2 separate regions of the Homo sapiens genome follow, and region 1 is linked to region 2. A link means that fine-mapping ties the variant in region 2 to the expression of a gene that starts in the linked region. Tissue or cell type: whole blood. Region 2 holds a variant in brackets; the other region holds the start of a gene. All regions are shown on one strand. Distances are between the middles of the regions.

The links. PIP is the estimated chance that this variant, and not a neighbour inherited with it, causes the effect.
Region 1: TTYH2 starts here. The variant in region 2 is fine-mapped to the expression of TTYH2 in whole blood (TOPMed, PIP above 0.99).

The regions. Positions count from the first base shown.
Region 1 is chr17:74,208,741-74,216,839 of GRCh38, forward strand. TTYH2 (tweety family member 2) reads left to right here and starts at 4,831. Exons shown (of 14, transcript NM_032646.6): 1 at 4,831-4,976. The coding sequence starts at 4,848. RPL38 (ribosomal protein L38) reads left to right here. Exons shown (of 5, transcript NM_000999.4): 4 at 447-569; 5 at 1,064-1,915. The coding sequence ends at 1,089. MGC16275 (a long non-coding RNA gene) reads right to left here and starts at 4,581. Exons shown (of 2, transcript NR_026914.1): 1 at 3,784-4,581; 2 at 1,240-2,942. RefSeq lists enhancers at 1,753-1,802, 7,126-7,175 and a silencer at 4,708-4,867.
Region 2 is chr17:74,237,147-74,245,245 of GRCh38, forward strand. TTYH2 (tweety family member 2) reads left to right here. Exons shown (of 14, transcript NM_032646.6): 4 at 148-368; 5 at 6,228-6,323; 6 at 6,831-6,903. Among named protein-coding and RNA genes, the nearest start is that of TTYH2, 28 kb to the left of the region's middle. RefSeq lists an enhancer at 7,736-8,099. The variant A/G (reference allele first, on the strand shown) is at 5,026.

The DNA.
Region 1 (8,099 bases), 28 kb before region 2:
CTGGCAAACATGGTGAAACCCCATCTCTACTAAAAATACAAAAAATTAGCTGGGTGTGGTGGTGCACGCCTGTAATCCCAGCTACTCCAGGAGGCTTAGGCAGGAGAATCGCTTGAACCTGGGAGGCGGAGGTTGCAGGGAGCCAAGATTGCGCCACTACACTCCAGCCTGGCAACAGACCGAGACTCTGTCTCAAAAAACAAAGTAGAAATAAGAAAGATAATAAGGTTGATAGAAGATATTCTGTAATGTTGTGTTCAGTGTACCCAATAAAAGTCCCAAGTTGGAGGAACGGGTAATAGTGTTTTCTGTTTGCACAGAGGGATGGTACTGGAGGTGGGTGCTGTCTCCTGCATGCTGCTTACTGCTTGAGTGTATTTGCACATGGACTGTGTCACATCTGTTTTCTGTGATACAATTTAATTCCTGATTCTGGTCTCCGGTAGCTGTCAAGATCAAGAAAAATAAGGACAACGTGAAGTTTAAAGTTCGATGCAGCAGATACCTTTACACCCTGGTCATCACTGACAAAGAGAAGGCAGAGAAACTGAAGCAGTCCCTGCCCCCCGGTGAGTGAGCCTGAAGTCACTTCAGGGGCGGGTGGGGTTTGGAAGGTTGCTGTGTGTGGCCATGTTGTATCTTGTTTTGAATCCCTCTCAGATTTCAGAGCCCATTTTATGGTCTAAGAATCTGCTCTTGCTGTTGGGAGTGTGAGGAATAGTTGTGATTCTCAGATTATATACAGTACCAGAAATCATTTCCTTAGCCAGAAGAGCGGTTAGAGCTCATTTAATCCTGTTCACGACCCTTCGAGGTTGGTGCTAGTACTGATAGTCCCCATTTTTTACAGGGGAACAGATGAAATATAATAGACCAAGTCTTTTTATCGAATATAATAGACCAAGTCTTTTTATCAAACACTAAATATTTTAACCGAAACTTCGCTGGTGGATCTAATTTCTGAACCTTGTGTGCTCTCTTTAGCTTAAGTACAAAATTTAGACAAGCAGCAGCAACTCAGATGTGTCTTCTGGATGGCTTACTTTTGTCTCTTTCCCTCTAGGTTTGGCAGTGAAGGAACTGAAATGAACCAGACACACTGATTGGAACTGTATTATATTAAAATACTAAAAATCCTAAGTGTCTTTCGTCTTTGCGGATGGGAAAGGGAAAAATGCTACCTCGTAGTGGCTTCTGATGGGAACAGGACGCGGGTTCTGTTGCTGCCTTCCTGTGTCTTTTTTTTTTTTTTTTTTTCTTTCTTTGAGACGGAGTCTTGCTCTGTGGCTCATCCTGGAGCACAGTGGTGCGATATCAGCTCACTACCACCTCCGCCTCCTGGGTTCAAGCGACTGTCCTGCCTCAGCCTCCCGAGTGGCTGGGATTACAGGCACACATCACCACGCCTGGCCAATTTTTGTATTTGTAGTAGAGACAGGGTTTCACTGCCTGCCTCAGCCTCCCATAGTGCTGGGATTACAGGCATGAGCCTCCGTGCCCGGTGCATCCCTAATCTTGAGCATGATCTCAGTCGGCAAATGAGGCCATCTGTTTTCAGCCTGTTTGAAAATAAGATGTGGGGAGGCCATGATGGAAATAGCACGTGGGGTTAAACATAACTGGCAGATGTGGGAGCGATGGTGGGGCATGCCATTCAAACAGGTCCCAAAATGGGTGCAACAAGGTATAGCACATCTACCACTCGCTAACTTGACTGACTTGGAGAAATGACTACACTTTTGCCTGTTTCCTCAGTTGGAAAATAGCCATATTAACACCTCTTTCATTGGCTTGCTGTCAGGGTACTGGGATGGGGGGAGGTGCATGGGTTGGGGTGGCCACCAGGTGGTGCTGTGCCACAGCGGGCAGCCCCTCTGGAAATGACTGGCATCATAAAATCTGTCTTCATACCCGAGGTAGTGTTTTTTGTTTTTTTAAGATCTCTACCTTTTAAAAGCGTGGCATACAGTGTGCTTGGTATTGTGTTAGGCATTTAGACGTGCTCAGGTTGTAAGGTTGAAGTGCCAGTCTTTGAATATTCTGTAAGGATTGTGAGGGTGTGAGGTGGTTTTGAGTCTGGTCACGGGTCTTGTTTCCTCCGGGAGAGGGTGGGTACACCAGCCCTCAGGCCCAGGTGCGGCACTGTGGGCGGCTTTCAGCCTTTCCCGTTCTGTAAGCATTGCAGATTCCCAAGGAAAAGCGAGCCTTTACCATGTGGGTTTTCTTTGTTCCCAGCACATCGTCCAGAGTTTCATCCCAGCTCCTAGGAGACAGGCCTTGCAGGGGTGTGTCCAGCCTTGTCTAGAGAAGGCCGCCTTTCATGCAGTGCTTCCCAGCCCTGGCTTGTGACTCAGTCATCTGGGGCACTTAGGCAGTTCACTGTGGTGGCCAGGGCTGACTGGAGATTGCGATTGCGGTGGTCTGGGGCATAGGTGTGTTTCCAAGCTCTCAGGTGGGCCTCTGCTTTGCTGGGGCTTCAGCAAGCCCTTAAGTGCTGCATACCAGGTGAATGGGGAGGGGGGAGGTGATGGGCTACAGCTGCTGGTGTGCCGACTGTCCTCCAACTCCCTGCTGAGTCTGTGGGAGGTCTGTCTGTTGTGCTTCAGCTTTTTGACACCTCTCTGGGTCAGCAGGCCTCCGGGGAAGCAGCTAGAATGGTCGCTGTCTGGCTGGGTGCAGGTGGGCTGACAGGTTTGGATATTCCAGGCCGCATTCCGGTGGCTGTGGAGATAGCCCTGAGGGACAGCCTTTGCAGTTTGTTTCTTCCAGTGCCGTGTGCAGGCCTCCAGCCTTCTGGGGCTCCCTTGCCCCGGGTTCAAAGTCAGTCCTCGGTGACCACCCACTGCCTAGGAGGCAGGCCCTTCCCACCTGGGGGGCCTCTGAGGGCAGGGGCTGTAAAAGCAGCTACCAGAAGAGTCCACTTTCCCCAGCAACTGCAGGGACTGAGTCAGAGACCAAGACCTTTTAAAAGGAGGTTTTCACCCAAAGAAGTTCCCTCCCCTGCCGCAGTCTCCAAGCTGATCGCCTGGCTCCTGCAGTTCTCCGGCTCCCTGTCCTGTTCTGGAACTTGCTTGCTTCCCCTTCCACTGGCCTTAGTCCCTGATCTCACAGGGTCCTGTTCCTTCTGCACAGAGGCCTCCCCCAGCACCCCCCTCTTTGACTCCCGATCATCCTTCAGCTCATGTCACTGTCCTTTGGGAAACAACCCTGACGCCCACCTTCCATCCCCTCTCCCTACAGCAGGGACTCTGACATTTCACAAGGCCTGCAATCGCTGTTTGCAGGATACAAGTCCACCTCACCTCGCCTACTAGGCTGTAGACGCCATGCAGGCGGGAACGTGTGTTTTATCCATTACTGTATCCTCTAGAACAGAGAACGTGCTCAAGAAAATTTGTTGAAAGACACCCCAATGAGAGAAGAATGGCTGTTTCCAGCCTTCCGGGCCCCTCAGCTTTGGGCTCCTGCAGGGCCCCAGAACCGTGGGATCACGGCCACGAGGAGAGGCCCCGAGGCCAGGACTTCCTCTAATGGACACAGGGCCTTTGAGCACCGGGTGACTGGGGCCCCACTCCCCAGCAGCCATATGTGTTTGCGAGCGTTTTCAGTCGGTCCGCATCCACCCGGTCCCTTCAGCCAGAACCCTAGGAGCCCCGCCCCGTCCTCCCGGGGCTCCTTTCTCACCCGCGTCCCTGCCGCGGTGGATACGCACCCCTCAGGCTGGCTGCCCAGCGCGGTTTCCACGCCCAATCTGCCGCGACCCCATCACTCCACCGCACCTACCCCTGACTCCTGCTTGTCCTGCAGCCTGGGCTCCTCCCTCCGCTGGCCAAGTCACGCCAAGCAGTTTGCGGTTACAGGACGGGTGGGGGCCTCTGCATATGTGCAGAGTACGGAGGGCCCAGGGACGCGAGGCTCCCCGATGGGCAACCTCCCCTGCCTTTGCTTTTCCCCAGAGCCCCCTCCTGGCCTGCGTTCGGCATCTTCTCGGGTCGTCATCGCCCTCTGCGGTGCCTGCGCTCGGGGTGAGGGTTTTTGTCGGCTTTTGTTACATCACCGATGTAACAGTGCCTGGACGTAGTAGGTGCTCAATAAATATGTTGTTGAATGCGCTTCAGTCTCCCCGAATGCTTGTCCCTTCCGGGCGCTCTCATCGCTCTCCTACCTTCCCCGCTACACAGCTCGAAGGTCCCCTCCTCCGGGAAGCTCACCCTGTCCCACTTGCCAGGAAGAATCAAGCAAATTTTCTGAGTGAGACACCTTGTCCTCACTCAGGCGTCCTGCAGGCGGCTTCAGCGAGTTGTTGGGGCAGATGCGCCGGGAGCTCCCGAGGGCAGGGACGGCGTCTTATTTCTCTTTTTAAGTCCACAGGGCTTGCACAATAGATGCCCAAAAAATGAGAGTGAATTTAGAATGAGTGACCGAGTGGCTGAAGATTGCCTCCTTCCTTTCCCAGTCTGTCGGTTACTTACCCTGTGACAAGCCCTTGGGACGGGCAGTCGCCCCTCTCTGGCCTATGACTGCTGGCTGCCCCCACTGACACCTTATACCCTTGATCTGATCATAAATAAGAAGCAGCCCGGGGACCTCGAGACTGAAACTGATTTAGAGACTTCTGGGAGCTTTTTTCACTTCCCTCCTCCCATCCGGCCAGGACAGATCCCCGCCCAGAAAGGGGCTGTTGACTGCAGCGGGCTGCGCGCCCAGAACTGGGACTGGGATCGCGGCGGGGCGGGGCGGGCGCGGGCCCAGGGAGAGGCGGGGCCGGGGGCGGGGCGGGCACGGGGCCCCGGCCGGGAGGTGAGCGCAGCTGTCGTTCAGCTTGTGGGTAGCACTCGGGCCGAGCCATGCAGGCGGCGCGCGTGGACTACATCGCTCCCTGGTGGGTCGTGTGGCTGCACAGCGTCCCGCACGTCGGCCTGCGCCTGCAGCCCGTGAACAGCACCTTCAGCCCCGGCGACGAGAGTTACCAGGAGGTAAGTTTACGCCGCCCCAGACCGCAGCCACGCGCGCCCCAAGTCCCCGCACTACCCCCTCTCCCCTCGAGAGCCTGCACTTTCCCACGTGCCTCTCAGACCCCTTCTCTCCCCGCGCAGCCCTTTCCCGTCTCCCCTCTCCCCTTTTCCCCCACCCTCCCAGGCCCGTGGCCCGCGTCCCCTCCTGTCTGGGAACCTGGGGGCCGGGAAAACTGAAGAGATCAGAGTGAAGCGAGCGTGGGGAAGGGGAGGAAGGGCGCAAGACCGCCTGCGGGGTGAGGGGCTGAACGCTGAGCGGGCAGGGCGGCGCGGGGGAGGGGTAAGGACAGGGGCATTCGTCTCGGGGTAATCCTGGCGCGCGAGGTGCGGGGATGCTGAGGGGTGCCCCGAAGTTTTCGACCGTCTGAGATTCCAAGATGGGGCGCTCTCTTTCCGGGGCTGAGTGGCCTAGGAAAGTTTGGCAGAAACTGAGTAGAGTCTCCCGAGTCGGTCTTCGCAGCACCCCTCCTCCCCAGCCCCGGCCTGCAGGGTGGGAGTCTCAGCTGGAAGGCTGCAGGGCTTGGGGAAGCGGTGTGGGTCACTTCCCCTCTAGCGCAGAGAACCCACAGCTGCTTGCGCTTGTTCCAGGGAAGGAAGGTGGCCTCCGTCAGCCCATCTCACACTGTTGTCCTGAGGACCCCCTTGCATTGACAGTCAGCTTCTCTGTGTCCCCTGGTCCTAGACTGGCCCATTCCTGTTCCCCCACGCCCCTCTCTCTACCTCACACCTTTAAGCCCTGAATTTCTGGCCTAGGGCAGTCACTCCCGGCTTCCCCGCCCTTTCCCTACTCTGCTGACCCTTGGCAGGATTCTGCACCCCACAAACAGGGCCAGGGCTCCCCAGACCTCCCTGCCCAGACAAACAAAGCTGCAGAATCTCCCAGCCCGTCTCAGGTCTGGTCACGCCTGCTCTGGCCCCGGGAGCCCACCTGTATCAGTTCCTTGTGTTGGGTCAAAGATTCTGGGGCCAGTGGACCAGGATGAGGTCCATTTATTCAGAGCCAGGCGCCCATCTCAGGACTTTGGCCCCCGGCGGCCTCTCCCTGTGTCAAGTTCTCCAGATATGGGACAGATCAGGGCAAAGCAGGGCCTCTTGGAGGGAATCCTGATCCAGTGTGAGGTGCCCAAGCGCCAGTGACAGGGAGTCTAATAATAACCCCTGACGACCCGGCTGCCATCAGGCCCAGGCAGATGGTGCCTGCCCTACCAGAGGGAGGGGAGCATCAGGACCCCTTCCTGGGGTTCAGTGGGCACTCAGGAGCAAGACGGCAGTCGGTGGACCCACCCCCCTCCCCCAGAGCCCAGCCTGTGGGAGTCTGTGTTCCCTGAGAATGTGGCTGCCTGGGGATAGCTCCAGGGAATCTTCCTCTCCCAGAGAATGCATGAAAAGAGGCGGATATGATTTCAGAAACAGCCGTGTGTGTGTGTGTGTGTGTGTGTGTGTGTGTGTCCCCATCCCAAACCCTGTGCCCCACATCCCACACCCGGGGTCTCCAGCCATAGTTTTCTCCTCTCCACTGGAGGAAATCTAAACTTTTCATTGGGTCAAGAAGACCCCTAGGTGGGGGTAGGGATGGTAAGGGGACTCCCTCACCCTGATGGCCCCAGAGACAGTTCCTATCAGCCCAACAGCTGTGGCTGGTGGATCCTGGGCCTGCCCACAGCCCCCTCAGTCCCATGGGCAGGTGGCAGTTGAGCCAGATGAACCTACCTCCAGCCTCTGCCCCTCCTCCCAGGATTCTGGCCCCGGCTCACTTTGTGCTGGGCATCAAATGGTTCCAGAGGGTGTCCCTTCCCATCGGCCACTGCTCCTGGGCAGCTGACACCAGCCCTGCCCACTGGCTCCTGGTCCCGCTCACCCCCTCACCACCACTCAGATCGCTGAGTAGGAGATGAGCGTGGTGGGCCAGGACCGGAAGTCTGGCTCTGGGTGTTATTTAAGGTGGCTCCTGTTTTTGGTAAGTTCCCCTGTTGTGACCACAGGTCTCTCCTGGATGTCTTCTTTCCTCCTGAGCACCAGTCACTAACAGAGTCAGGTGGACCGTCGGTCATCCCAGTCTTCAGCAAGCTTGACTGGAGCAAGTGCTATGCCAGGCGTGGGGTGACCGTGGTAACCAAGGCAGCAGGTCTTCAGGAGAAATTGCTGGGGATTTTCTGCGGCTGGGCTCTGGGCGCAGTGCTATGGCAGACACCAAGCAGTTTGAGGTGGGGCTCTGCCCTCCAGTTGGCTGGGGTGGATTCCCAGTTCTTTCCATGTGTGACCACGGGTAGGTGTCTTAACCTCTCTGAGCCTTGTTCCCTTCATCTGCAAGAATTAGATGAGATATTCCACATATCATGCCTAGTACAGAGAGTCCCATAGCACATAACAGGAGCCAGTGACACAGATCATTCAATGGAGTGGCTGAGAGGTTCAGGAGTGTGTCTCAGGACAGTACCCTGCTGGGGAATGGAGAGGAAGGAGATCTCTTCCACAGACTCTGATTGGGGGAGACTGAACAAAACGCCTGCAGAAAGGGCTTCAGCTCATGCCCCACATGTTCAAATGCACAGTGCTGGCTGTGTGGGGTGTGGGGGGTGGGTGCGTGTGCATCAGAGACTAAGCAAGGATGGAAACAGGCAGGTGCTGGCCTTAGGATGTGGGTGGTGCGGGGGATCTCAAAGGCAAGGGGGTTCTTGGAAGTGCAGAGATGGTGAAGAGCAGGTCACCTGGTGAGCTGGGATTTCCTGAGCAAGTTCAGTGTTCCAGAACCTTCCTGAGGAAGTAGGGGCTCTCACTCACTTTCTGGGGTGTTTGGGAGCCGTGAAAGCCCCCAGTCCTCCTGATAGTTGATCCTCACCCCTCTCCCCCCAGTGAACTTGAGCCCAAGTCCTCGCAAAGGCCACTTGGCCTGTGTCACCAGCCTTGTGGGGAGGCTACCCTCCAGTGAGTAGAGGCATGAGAGGTGAGCACCAAGGCAGGGCTGTGGACGAGGGCACCTTGGCCCTGGCGGGCACCCAGCTCTGGGCTGCCAGATGTGGCTGTATGTCTGGAAGGAAATCAGCCTAGACCTGCAGCCCAAGTCTTCTCACCTTTGACAGATGA
Region 2 (8,099 bases):
GCCTCAGCCTCCCGAAGTGCTGGGATGACAGGCATGAGCGTAATTATCGCACCTGGCCAGGCCACCTTCTGCTGCCTGCAAAGACCTCTTCCGGGATGAGAATCAGAAGCTCTACCTCCATGGCTTTTGCCCCCTGCTCCTCCCTAGGTTTCCGGAACTACCCAGAAGATGAAGGTGGACCTAGAGCAGCACCTGGCCCGGCTCAGTGAGATCTTTGCTGCCCGGGGCGATTACCTGCAGACCCTGAAGTTCATACAGCAGATGGCGGGCAGCGTTGTTGTTCAGCTCTCAGGACTGCCCGTGTGGAGGGAGGTCACCATGGAGCTGACCAAGCTATCCGACCAGACTGGCTACGTGGAGTACTACAGGTGAAGGACCGGTGGGAGGCAGAGGGAGGGGCAGCAGCGGCTACATCAGCTTTGTTTATCCAAACCTGCATGTTGAGCTCCAGGTGGAGAAGGGCCACTGGAAAGTATTTTTTTTTTGTTTTGTTTTTTTAAGACAGAGTCTTGCTCTGTTGCCCAGGCTGGAGTGAAGTGGCACGATCTCAGCTCACTACAATCTCTACCTCCGGGGTTCAAGAGATTCTCTTGCCTCAGCCTCCCTCCCAAGTAGCTGGGACTACAGGTGTGTGCCGCCACGCCAGACTAATTTTTGTATTTTTAGTAGAGACAGAGTTTCACCATGTTGGCCAGGCTAGTCTCTCGAGCTCCTGGCCTCAAGTGATCCACTGGCCTCAGCCTCCCAAAGTGCTGGGATTACAGGCGTGAGCCACCATGCCCAGCCCACCAGAAAGTCTTGATAAGCCATTGGCCAAAATCAGGAGAACATGGGGGCTTACAGGGGCCACGTGGTGAGCATGCAGGATAGCCTCCTTAATAGATAGGCAGCAGAGGCTACAGAGGACAGGGATGTGCTCACACTCCCCGCGCCAAAGGCTGGACCTGGCCTCAGCCTCCCGCACACGGTGGGGTGCTTCTCTGGGACTAGCATTCTTCGTGGCTGGTGCAGGGTGGAAACGCCACATGCTTCATAGGTTCCTCGCCTGCCAGAGTTCATGGGACAGGATTTCTTGTATCCACAGACACAGCCACAGGGTTATGGGGGGTTGAGGAGATGAGCACCCGGCTAAGGGTGCTAAGAAGTTGCCATCAGGGGAGGCTCTGACCTACAAGTCATTGTGCTCCCAGGGCCTGGGCCTAAGCGTGGAGGAGGCACAAGGGAGGAATGAGGCTGTGTCCCCAGACTCACTTTTTTTTTCTTTCTTTTTAAGACAGTATCTCACTCTGTCACCCAGGCTGGAGTGCAGTGGTGTGATCATGGCTCATTGTAGCCTTGAACTCCTGGGCTCAAGTGATCCTCCCGCCTCAGCCTCCTGAGTAGCTGGGACTACAGGCATACAACCACACCTGGCTAGTTTAAAAAAATTTTTTTTTGCAGCTGGGACTGGTGGCTCACACCTATAATCCCAGCACTTTGGGAGGCCAAGGCAGGCAGATCGCCTGAGGTCGGGAGTCCGAGACCAGCCTGACCAACATGGAGAAACCCTGTCTCTACTAAAAAATACAAAATTAGCTGGGCGTGGTGGCGCATGCCTGTAATCCCAGCTACTTGGGAGGCTGAGGCAGCAGAATTGCTTGAACCCAGGAGGTGGAGGTTGCAGTGAGCCAAGATCATGCCATCACACTCCAGCCTCAGCAACAAGAGGGAAACTCCATCTCAAAAAAAAAAAAAAAATTTTTTTTTAGAAATAGGGGTCTTGCTTTGTTGCCCAGGCTGGTCTCAAACTCCTGGCCTCAAGCAATCCTCCCACCTCAGCCTCCCAAAGTCCAAGGATTACAGACATGAGCCACCATGCCCAGACCAGCCTCACTTATGTAGAACCTGAGTGATGGGGACTGAGGGGCACCACCCTCACTTAGGTGTACAAACTCATGCCCGTGTCATCTGACCTCTGGGGCTTTGTTTACATCTCCCCTGCCTCCCCATTTGCCAAATCCCAGCCTAGCCAGAGGCACTGGACACAATCGGCGGAGCAGGGACCTGCTGCCCCTCTCCAGGTGCAGGGTCCAGCGAAGTTTGCTCCGTGGAAAGCACAGGAAGGAGGCAGCAGCCCCAGCCTTTGGAGGGCTCCCGGCTGAATGATGGCCTGGGCTTGTGCTCCCAGGGCCCGGGCCTAGCATGGAGGAGGCACGTGGGGAGGGGAAGCATGAGTCAGGAGGAGCGAGTGTCAGTTCTTTGGATCCCTCCCCGCACCCTCCATTTGTTGGCTCCTCTTCAAGCCATTGATGAACGTCAGAGCCTTTAGCTCAGGGTTGCACAACTTACTTCTGTTTTCTGGATTTGTGTCCCCTTGTGTCATAAAGCCCCACTCCAGGAGGTCACTGCTGGACTGAGTCCAGGGGCCTCTCCCCTTCCCAAAAATAGGAGGTGGCAGGTCCCTGAGCAGAGGGAGCTCATGAAGTCCCCAGCTCTGGGGGTCCTCCCCACACCTTGCCTCCCCAGCCCGTCCAGTCCCTGCATCTCCGCCATGTCCTGGATGCTCTGGATTGAAGGGACCTTGGCCCCACTCCCCAGCAGATGGATGCTCATGGGCAAAAGAGCCTCCCTCCCAAGGGACAGAAGGAAACTGCCAGCTCTAAGGACTGTCTGTGACCTCCTGTGGCCCCAAAACAGGGGTGTCTGATGATTCTCCTGATGCATGGGCCATTCATTGCCTGAGCCTTCGAAATCTTATGTCAGGCAGGGGCAGGACCCATTTTAACGTCACTCTTCTCTGAGCACACCTAGCAGAGGACTGTGTATGTTTAAGGGCCTCATGTGGGCATTTTGTTAATGACACTGATGGAATTAAGTCAGAATTTACATATCAAAGGCGGCTTATTGTTAAGGCGATGGTATTAAAATAGTGGAAGGATGGTGTCAACTGCACATCAGCTATTTCAGCGTGGGTGATTGACAGGACCCCCTGTGAGTCCATCCCCAACTCCCCACTGCTTATTCGGGTTGAGGCAGAAGAGGTTTGGCTCATGCTGTAATCCCAGCACTTTGGGAGGCTGAGGTGGGTGGATCACCTGAGGCCAGTAATTCGAGACCAGCCTGGGCAACATGGAGAAACCTCATCTCTACTAAAAATACAAAAATTAGCTGGACGTGGTGGCGCACGCCTGTAGTCCCAGCTACTTGGGAGGCTGAGGCAGGAAAATTGCTTGAACCCAGGAAGCGGAGGCTGCAGTGAGCCGAGATTGCGCCACTGCACTCCAGTCAGGGCAATAGAGTGAGACTCTGTCTCAAAAAAAAAAAAAAAGCAGAGGTCTAGTCCAAGGTTGGCACCTATGGCGCCTGAACATCAGTGATATTCTACCCCTTCTCCTGTCTTTGCTTCCATCTGTGGCTTCTCCTCTCACCTGAGCTGCTCTGCAAAAAAAGCCCTCCCCTGAAGGGCCCCTGTCTTTGCTTTTGGGATAGTCCTTGAGCATAACCATGCAGCAAAGCAGATATTTCCTAGCATTTTTATACAAGGCGGGGCGAAGTATTGGAGGAGATAAAAAGCCAAGGGGCTCCTCTCTTTGAGAGGCTACGGTTGAGGGAAGAGGGAGCCGGGGTGGGAGTGGCTCTGGCAGGCAGAGCCGAGTTCTTGGTTAGGAATACATCCCCCAGTCCTCGCCCAGCTCCTCTGGGAAAACACATCCGCCTAGAGGAGATGTTTCCAGGAACCCCTGACAACATGAGGCGTGGAGGCAGGGAAAATACATTGAATCACAGCCACAGAGAGTGGGTTAGAAGCACCCCTAACTGGATTTCCTGCTGCTCTGCAGAGCGGAGGCGAGTGGTGAGAAGAAATCTTTAAGTTTGAAACATGAACTGGGTATTTCGAGAGGTGCCCTGTAGCTGGCTGTGTCCCTTGCAGGAAGCTTGATGTAGACAATGTGGAATTTCTGGGCCAGGCTCTCCCCACCAGGGGCCTTGGCTTTCTAATCTGTACTAATCTGTAGAATGGGATCCAGCTCACACCTATGATCCCAGCACTTTGGGAGGCTGAGGCAGGAGGATCTCTTGAGTCCAGGAGTTTGAGACCAGCCTGGACAACATAGACAGACCCGGTATTTATAATACGTGTGTGTGTGTGTGTGTGTGTGTGTGTGTGTGTGCGTGTAAAAATAAGAATGTGATCCAAACACTAGATGGTTTGCGAGGTTCCTTCCAGCTCTGAGCTAAGTCTAAGGAAACTGGCTTCTTGGTGGCAGCAGGCTCTGCCCACTCCCCAAAGCCCCCGGCTCCATTCCGGGGAACCCCAGAGACCTAGTGTGTGCTGCCCCCTGCTCGTGCAGAGACAAGGACTTTGATTAGTCCCCTTCTTTTGGCAGTAAGCCTCAATTCGGGGAGTCAGAAAGAACCTCCCTTGGCTGCCAGGCCTCCAGCTTGCTCCCTCCCCTCTCTCCCTCGGAGCCTCTTTGCCACTTTCTGCCAGCTCCAGGGCACTCCCTGCCCACGCTCCAAACTCCGTCTTCCCCTTTATGATGTCAGTGAAGCAGAAAACCATTGCTGGAGAGGAGAGGTCAGCGACTTTACTTGGCTCTTGCAGCAAGAGAAATAATGATCCAAATACTTCCCTCTTTGGGGACGGGGAAGCCCCTGTCTCTGTGCCCGCCCCTCCTCTGTCCACTCTCCCGCTGGTGCCCAGCACAGGGTAAAGGGCATGGCTGCCAGGGGAGACCACTGGGCCTTGTGAGGACCACCTTGGGGACCTGTGTGGAAGGGAAAGGAACGAGGGCACTTTGTTTGGGGTCTTCTCAGTGTCCGTTGGCTTAAGATACTTTGATTCTTCAGCCTGTTCTCTGGAGAAGCAGGAGGGCAGGGCCTTTGAAGTCCTTGGCTGCCTTGCCCCATCAACCTTTATATTTAGCAAGCACTTAATCCTTCCTCTGGCCCTGTGAGATGAGGGGTTCCAGCTCCCTCTACAGATATGGAAACCAAGGTCTCAAGGGGTGAAGTGGCTTACCAAGGTCTCCCAGCTGGGGTGTG[A/G]CTGCCTTTCCCCATCAGTCCAGCCCTGGGGACAAAAAGGCCAGAGGAATGAAGGGCTTGGAGGAGGCTGGAGGTCTGCAGGGCTGTAGGTACCCTGACCTGGACTCCCGGGTTCCACACTGAGCCCTCTGATGGTCAGAAACGAGCCCACTCACCTGGGTATCCCTGGTGCCAAGCTCAGTGCCTGGCACAAATGTTGTTTAAAAATGAACCTGAAGTTTTTTGTTGTTGTTGTTTTTGAGATGGAGTCTCACTCTGTGGCCCAGGCTGGAGTGCAATGGCGCCATCTCAGCTCACTGCAACCTCTGCCTCCTGGTTTCAAGTGATTCTCCTGCATCAGCCTCCCGAGTAGCTGGGACTACAGGTGCCCGCCACCACACCTGGCTAATTTTTGTATATTTTGTAGAGATGAGGTTTCACCACGTTGGCCAGGCTGGTCTCGAACTCCTGGCCTCAAGTGATCTGCCCGTCTTGGCCTCCCAAAGTGCTGGGATTACAGGCGTGAGCCACTGCGCCTGTCCTGAACCTAAAAGTCTTAAGTTATGGATCCCATCCAGCAAGGGGGCAAGATGGGAGGCCTTGGGGAGCCAGGCTGAGTGTTTGTCAAAGAGGCAGGCACCTTAGGGGCTGTGTTAGATCTGTGGCTATAAACATCAGGCCTTGGCTGGTCTGATGCTGTCTGAGAGTTCTAGAAGCAAAGGGAAGCAGGGTCCTAGGCGATGCCTGCTGGGAGGCCGCAGAAAGACACTTCAGAGCTGTGCTGTCCAGGGTGGTAGCCCCAGCCATGTGTGGCTATTGAAATTAATTAAAATTAAGTAAAGTTTAAAATGTATTTCTTCAGTTGCACAAGCCATATTTCAAGTTCTCGGTAGCCACCTGTGGGTAGTGGCAAAGAAGAGAGTGGACAGCAGGGATTTAGAACAGCTCCTCCACTGGGGAAAGTTCTAGTGCACAGTGCTGGTTTTGACACTCAGCCTAGAGGTGAAGGCAGGGGGTGTGAATTGACAGCTTTGTCCAGGCAGCAGTGGGGGTGCAGCTCCCGAGGCTTCAGCCCACGCATGCTGGGTGCTTGCTGGCTCTGGGCAGCATGTCCATAGTAGAGGGTCCAGTGTGTCCCAGGGCTGCCGTGCAGGCCTCTCACGTGGCCAGCAGGTCAGAAGTTCCACCCTGCTGCTCCTGACCATCCCTGCCCCTCTACCCAGGTGGCTCTCCTACCTCCTGCTCTTTATCCTGGACCTGGTCATCTGCCTCATTGCCTGCCTGGGACTGGCCAAGCGCTCCAAGTGTCTCCTGGCCTCGTGAGTATCCCTACCCGTGGACCTGGGACAAAGAGCTGGGCAGGATGCCATCATCAGAGAGAGACGAGGGCCTGGCCAGCTCCAGAGTGTGGGGAAAATAGCCAGGCTGCCTGAGGCCACCTTCTGCCCCGTCCTCAGCACTCAGCAGAGGAGACAGACAGCAGCCACCAACTCACCATCTGGTCACCAAACGAGCAAGCATTAGGCTTTCCTCCTTCTCTGGGCCTGACTCTGTTGAGCAGCTAAGAAACATGGGTCCGTGCATGAAAGCCTCTGGCCGTCTTAGCCAACACTGCCCCCTTAGCCTGTGCTCTCACGCCTGGGTCTCTTTAGCCTCAAGGACCTGGGCTCCATGGTCCTTTCCTAGTAGTGAGCAGGGCCCACGTCAGGGCAGGGACTGAGGCTGCCTTTGGATCCATTGCAAGGGTCTGGGGGCAGGGTGGGTGGGGTGATGGCTGAGAGGAAGGGGACCCCGCCTGCCAACGTTGTCGCCTGCCTCTCTCCTAGGATGCTGTGCTGTGGGGCACTGAGCCTGCTCCTCAGTTGGGCATCCCTGGCCGCTGATGGCTCTGCGGCAGTGGTGAGTTGGGGGAGGGAGTGGGTGGTGGGTGGTGGTTGGTCTGCCAGGACACTCTGGTGTGTCTCCAAGCAGGGCCAGCTTCCGGTCCCAGCTCCTAACCTAGAATCCCAGAATCTCAGAACCAAAGGGACTTGCGTCATCTGAACCGGCCCCTCTCGTTACAGATGGGGAAACAGGCCCAGAGAAAGGAAGGGGACTGCCCAGGGTCAGAGCCAGGATAAGACACTCATGCTTCATACCCAGAGAGAAGCCCCCGGCTGCCCAGGCATGCTTAGGCTTACACGTGCTTAGGCTTAGGCGTGCCTGGGTGACCAGGGCGCTTCTCTCTGGGTGTGAAGAACTGACCGGGTCTCCTGAGAATGGGTAGGGGTCCAAGCCTCAGACTGGGGAATCCCTCCCGCATCAGAAGCTGCTGCTTTGCCAGCTCCCCAGGCCCTGGGACTGTAGAATGTGGTGTCTGACTTGCCTTCCATCCCAATGTCCCAGGACTCCCGCGGTCTGAAGCACACATGCTGTATGTTTCTGGATGTGATGTCTCAAAATGGCTTAAAAAAAAAAAGTTGGGGGCTTCCTATGCGGGTCCACATGATCTTTAAAGGACCTAACACTGGCGCTAAGCTGTGTGCATGAGGCTGTTCATTCACTCAGCTGACATTGTTTGCTGGGTGGCACTCGATGGTACAAGTTGCCTGGGGTTGCGGAAGCCAAGAGGACGTGATGTTTGCTGTTGACAAAGTTCCAGCCTTTGGAAGCAAGACTCATAGGCAGATCACTGCAACCCCAGGCTTTGATACAGTGGAGGTGCAGTGTGTGTGTGTGTGTGTGTGTGTGTGTTTGTGTGTGTGTGTTCATGCACATGCACGTGATAGAAGAGAACACAGTTTACCAGGGGAATTCAAGGAACCCCTCACTGATTCAAAGTCCACAGACTAACCCTGGGACATGCATCTGTTCTGCCATAGTGACCTGAGGCTTGATAGGATAAGATGGGGGTGGCTTGTACAAGAAGCTCCCTAACCACACTCACACCTCGTCCAGTGACTTGGGGGCTGGCCACTAGCTCTGGGCGTGGACACAATGCCCTCAGGGACTCTGGCACTGCCTGACTTAGCACCTTAGGCAGAGGCTTGTGCAGAAGGGAGAAGAGGGGGCATTTTCTGTCTTTGCCTCCTGCCACCCCAGTGCAGTGACCACGG